Regions from separate parts of the Homo sapiens genome. Here region 2 is linked to region 1. Evidence: fine-mapped expression QTL. Tissue or cell type: breast. Region 1 holds a variant in brackets; the other region holds the start of a gene. All regions are shown on one strand. Distances are between the middles of the regions.

Region 1 (2,773 bases):
CCACGGGCTCAAGAAGGACACATTTATCCAGAATCTTCCAAGGAAATGTGAAAGCAATCTGGTTAGCCAATTAAAAATGAGAATTGTAATAACAGTTACTATCCCTTATCATTTACTGAGAGCTTATTATATGGGAATCACATTGTCTAGGTTCGTCCTCATCATAGCCCCGTTTTTCAGATGAAGAATCAGAAGCTTAGAGATTAAAGGACTTGCCCAGGATATGCAATTAGTTACATGTCCGAATCTTGCTCTTAACTGCCACACTGTAAAGTCTAAGGCACACACACACACCTTTAAATTTTATTTTGCAGCATCCAGACTATCCTGTCCATTCTCAGCCTCTCATTCCTTTCTTTCTTTTTTTTGGAGACAGAGTCGCACTCTTGTCGCCCAGGCTGGAGTGCAGTGGCGCGATATTGTCACACTGCAACTTCCGCCTCCTGGGTTCAAGCGATACTCCCGCCTCAGCCTCCTGAGTAGCTGGAATTACAGGTGCCCACCCCCATGCCCGTCTAATTTTGTATTTTTAGTAGAGATGGGGTTTTGCTACGTTGGCTAGGTTGGCCTCAAACTCCTGACCTCGGGTGAGCTGCCCTCCTCGGCCTCCCAAAGTGCTGGGATTACAGGCGTGAGCCACTGTGCCTGGCCAGCCTTGTTCCTTTCTAAGAGATAAATGGTTGTCTCAAGTTGATCACAGGAATTTCAAGGACACATATGACCACCAGGTAACATCTAGATCAGGGATCTGTCAGAGGCCTTGTTGTTCGGCTGCCTCTGTACTCATCCTGATTTCCCTGGAAAGTGCAGAATGAAAGGCTTGGAGGGAGCTGGCGTGGCTTCCAAGCAAAGGTCCCAGTCCTACTCCCAGCCAAGAGCAGCTGCAGAATCACAACGGTGGCAGGGACCTTCAGGGGGCCCCTCTCCCACAGATCCATCCATGGGGGGTCTTTCAGAGGACACCAAACAAGGGTATTGGGAGAGTACAGAGTCAACAACATTCTGGTGGGGGTAGATGCATGGCCCTTTCATACTAGTTCACGCAGAGATTCAGTTGGCCCCAGGGTTCTCCTTAGCTCACCCTGGTTTACACCACCTTACAGCCTTGCTCTATAGCCAACTGTGCCCTCAAATCCCCCCTGCACCCTGGCTCCCAGGGTCTGCCGCCTGGGACTGTGCTTGCACTCAGTTCTCTTTGCTATGCATAAAACCCTGGACACAAGTCCCAAGACAGGGGC[G/A]TCTGCCTTCCCCATTTTAATCCACACTTTCTCTGCAACATTGCTAGAGTTGTGTTGTTCAGGGCAGCAGCCACAAGTCACATGTACCTATTTAGATTTAAATTAATGAAAATTAAATCATATTAAAAGTTCCATGGCCCACACGCTAGCACATGGGTGGACCCGGAAAATATTATGCTAAGTGAAATAATCCAGTCACCAAGAAACAAATAATTGTATGATTCCACTTGTGTGAGGTACCCATAATAGTCAAATTCATAGAGAGAAGGTAGGATGGTGAGTGGCGGGGCACTGCGGGGAAGAAAAACTGGGCAGTTTATGTTTCATGGGTACAGTTTCAGTTAGAAAAAATGAAACAGTTCTGAAGATGGATAGTGGTAATTGTTGCAAAACAAAGTGAATGTTTAATGCGACAGAACTTTACATTTAAAATGGTTAAGATGGTAACATTTTATGATTATATATATCTGTATATATACATACCCACAATAAAATACACACACACACACACACACACACACACATACATAAATTCCTAGCCACATTTCAAATGCTCAGCAGCAGCAGGTGGCTAGAGGCTAGCAGCTTGGACAGTGCAGATAGAAAACATCTCCATTCTTGCCTAGTTTTTTCGTACAGCAATGATTTGCAGTGCCTGATGCCAACTCTCCCAGGGATGGTCATGTACAGTTGTGCAGGTTGTGGCCTGCATCAGGACATCCTGCTGAGTGAATGGGTCCTTATTTCCAGCTTACAATCTACTGGCTGGTTACCCTGCACAGGGCAGTGCCTGGCCAGTGGGGGTGGCTTTTTTTAATTTTCAGGTAGATTCCATATTGCAGTGGTGCCTAGATCTGGCTCAAATTTCAAGTATTTTGCAAACCAGTTGTTAAACATGGCCATTGCTAAAAATTCAATTATAAAAGTCCACAATTAAATAAATTTTATTTTATTTTATTTTTTTGCCAGGCGTAGTGGCTCACACCTGTAATCCCAGCACTTTGGGAGGCCGAGGCAGGCGGATCATTTGAGGTCAGGAGTTTGAGACCAGCTGGGCCAAGATGGCAAAACCCTGCCTCTACTAACAAATACAAAAATTAGCCAGGCGTGGTGGCAGGTGCCTGTAATCCCAGCTACTCGGGAGGCTGAGGCAGGGAGAACCACTTGAAACCAGGAGGCAGAGGTTGCAGTGAGCCAAGATTGTGCACTGCACTCCAGCCTGGGCGACAGAGCGAGACTCTGTCTCAAAAAAAAAATAAATTAAATAAATCAATAATATTTTTTGAAAGTAGTACATTCTCACCATTTATCACTTCCCAACTACTACATTCTGCTATGATGTAGGCTCATGGGGTTATTTACATCTATTGTATCTGTGTGGTGGAAATAACACACAATGGCTTGCTACTGCCCATCATTTTTCAATGCCATATTCGGTGACATCTCCATAGCTGGAAATCAGCCATGGTGAGATTGAGTATTTACACCTCAGGAATTGGCAAATGCTACAGACTGCAGCTGTTTTCTTAGAAATC
Region 2 (2,773 bases), 770 kb before region 1:
GATTCCTAAAATAAAGTATAAAGGGTCTAAAACAATGATAACAACAAAAAAATTCATAAAAGCCTTAACTGTATTCCAGGTGGTTTAAAAGTAACTTTGAGTTTTGTTATATTACTATTACAAAATGTTAAGTGTTTATGACCTCCCTTCCCACACCCCATGAGAACTTTAGAACACCTTTATTAACGGTGTTTGTGCCAATTTTCAATGTAAAAAAAGTGGCATTTCACTGTTGACTATTTTTAAAAACAGAAGTAATTGCCAAGGAGAGAAATTTTATATATATATATATACACACACACACACACACACACACATTATATATATACACATATGTATACATTATATATATATACATTTTATATATATACACACAGGCACACACATATACACATAATAGTATCATGGCTGTAGTTGTCATTGTTGTTTAAATTATCTGCTTTGCTCCAGAAAGTTTCTCAGCTTTATGATTATTAACATCTGTGGATTGGGAGCCGTGTCAAATATTTGAGATTTCCCAATTCATGGACTTTGATTTCCTGTTTTGCCATTCACTGTGGCAGGTCAAGAAAAGTTTGCAACTCTTTACAGAGCAGAGAGAGACAGACTATGCTATATGAATTAAACATGTTTCAGTTTGTTGTAGTCTTCGTGCACAAAAATTTATCTGAATCTTTTTATATGTTTTGTAGACCTGGGCAAACCACTGGCTTATTTTGTTCATAAGTATTATGAAATCCTGTATCCACTGTGAAGAGGGTGGGAGCAACAAATTTGTTAAAAATTCTTCATTTGTCTGTCCTAGGAGTTTCTCCAAGGCGTACTATGGATTGCTTAGCTTTATTAGGAAAAAAAATCAGCTCCAGAATACTCTGCTAACTTAGTCTGAATTAGTTAAATATACAACTAACTGGCAGTTGTGTTTATTCATCAGTAGTGAAAAGAAAATAGATACAGATTTCTTATACAAATTTAACTGCTTTGTTTGGTTAGTTATTGTTTTTACTCTTTCTTGTTCCTGCCTCCATCTTGGTCTCATCATTTCTGAAGAACTAGTTCCATTTTCCTTGTTTACCGTTTTCCCCCTTATCCCTGTAGTTGAAAGGCTAAGTGAACAAACACAGAGTTTATTTTATTCCCAACCAACCACGGAACAGTCATTTCCTTGCAGAATAATTGGCTTAGGGAGAAAGAGACACAGAAAACAAAACAAGTTCATCATGTACAGCTTGGTCTGGCTACACCCCTTTTCAGAAACCAGGCTGTGTAAGAGCTGCTGGAGTAGGCACCCATTTAAAGAAAAAATGAAGAAGCAGCAATAAAGAAGTTGTAATCGTTACCTAGACAAACAGAGAACTGGTTTTGACAGTGTTTCTAGAGTGCTTTTTATTATTTTCCTGACAGTAAGTAAAGCTCTATTTTGTTGTGCTGTGCCAAATATGTGGGTGGACACTGCTAAAATCAATCTATTTTTCAGATGTTTCCCAATTCTTATGTGTTTTATGTTAAAGACCTAAGACTAAATTTTTCTGCTTTTTCCCAACCACTTTTTATTGTGTAGATTGTAACAGTAAGACATAGAAAAATGGAAAAAATTTGCTTCTGTGCTAGCTGAGGGAGAATTATCTGAATATTTTGATGTAAAAATATGAAAGAATTTCATTTTGAGGTTACAGAAACGAAAAAAATTGTGTTTCTTGATTTGCAAATCTTTGGGCAAAATTACTTTCCCGTGTGATTTATTTTTGCTTCTTTTAAAGCTAATTTTGTAGTTTCATTAGTTATTCAGGGACTTCTGAATTCAGAAAATTGAGAGAAATTGCTTTATTCTTCCTGTATCTCAGAATCAAGTTTCAAGTAGTTTGAGCCTGGATTATGATTTACAACCTATCTCTTTTCATAAAAGTTGATTCAATCTGAAGGTAAAATTACAAGAAAACACTTTATTGAGGTTGTATCTAGTGGATGTAATTTATTATTCAGACAAATTTAAGTAATCAGACTTTTGATGTTAATTTGATTAGCTCTGAGATTTCTGTTTCAATGTAAAGAACAAGAAATGGCTATTAACAGGATGAAATTAATTTAATCACTCTATTCATGTACTTAAAGTTCTCTCATACAAGGCCAAAAATGTGAAATTATAGGTTCTGAAGTTGAATTACAGCTTTTCCATTTCAGTACTCCAAGTTATTGCAAAATTGTGATAATAATCACTCTGCCTTCCCACCATCACCCACTCCCCTAAAAAGCTTAAGGTGAAATATTTGAGGTGAAATTTTACAGTCATAAATTATTGAAATAATATTTTAAATTCATGTTTACACTTTTTAAAGGTAGTAAATATTTTCCTCAACACTATGATCAAGGTTTTTCTTATTACACTTATTTTTTTCTAGGTTGTGTTCCACCATGATTACTTTCTCCTTCAGCGAATAGGCTAAATGAATATGAAACAGAAAAGCGTGTATCAGCAAACCAAAGCACTTCTGTGCAAGAATTTTCTTAAGAAATGGAGGATGAAAAGAGAGAGCTTATTGGTATGTTTAAAAATTTGTCTCTTTCCACGGTTAGCACTCTTACAGTGTTTCATTACCTACTGATTCTCTTATGTTCTCTTTTAATTAGTAGATGGGATTTATTGATTTTACCAGTTCTCTCTAGTTGTATTTGTTGAATTGAGAGACTGAAGAATAACATAAAATTATTAAAGACTAAAAGAATTCCTCATATAAAAAGAGATTAAGTGAACATTTAATTATATGGTAAATTA

Direction of the effects. Positions count from the first base shown, and alleles are read on the strand shown. Sizes are in standard deviations (SD) of each study's normalised expression.
As copies of A replace G in region 1, the expression in breast of the gene that starts at base 1,253 in region 2 goes down (moderate effect, 0.43 SD a copy in GTEx).

What was found. PIP is the estimated chance that this variant, and not a neighbour inherited with it, causes the effect. A credible set is the group of variants that fine-mapping cannot tell apart.
Region 2: it holds the start of ABCA6, and the variant in region 1 is the best candidate, but not a certain one, in a credible set for the expression of ABCA6 in breast (GTEx, PIP 0.89).

Annotation. Positions count from the first base shown.
Region 1 is chr17:68,365,667-68,368,439 of GRCh38, reverse strand. The region is part of intron 6 of ARSG (arylsulfatase G); the gene reads right to left. Among named protein-coding and RNA genes, the nearest start is that of MIR635, 57 kb to the left of the region's middle. The variant G/A (reference allele first, on the strand shown) is at 1,239.
Region 2 is chr17:69,140,375-69,143,147 of GRCh38, reverse strand. It overlaps ABCA6 (ATP binding cassette subfamily A member 6), which reads left to right and starts at 1,253. Exons shown (of 39, transcript NM_080284.3): 1 at 1,253-1,403; 2 at 2,400-2,540. The coding sequence starts at 2,445. RefSeq lists a silencer at 1,066-1,360.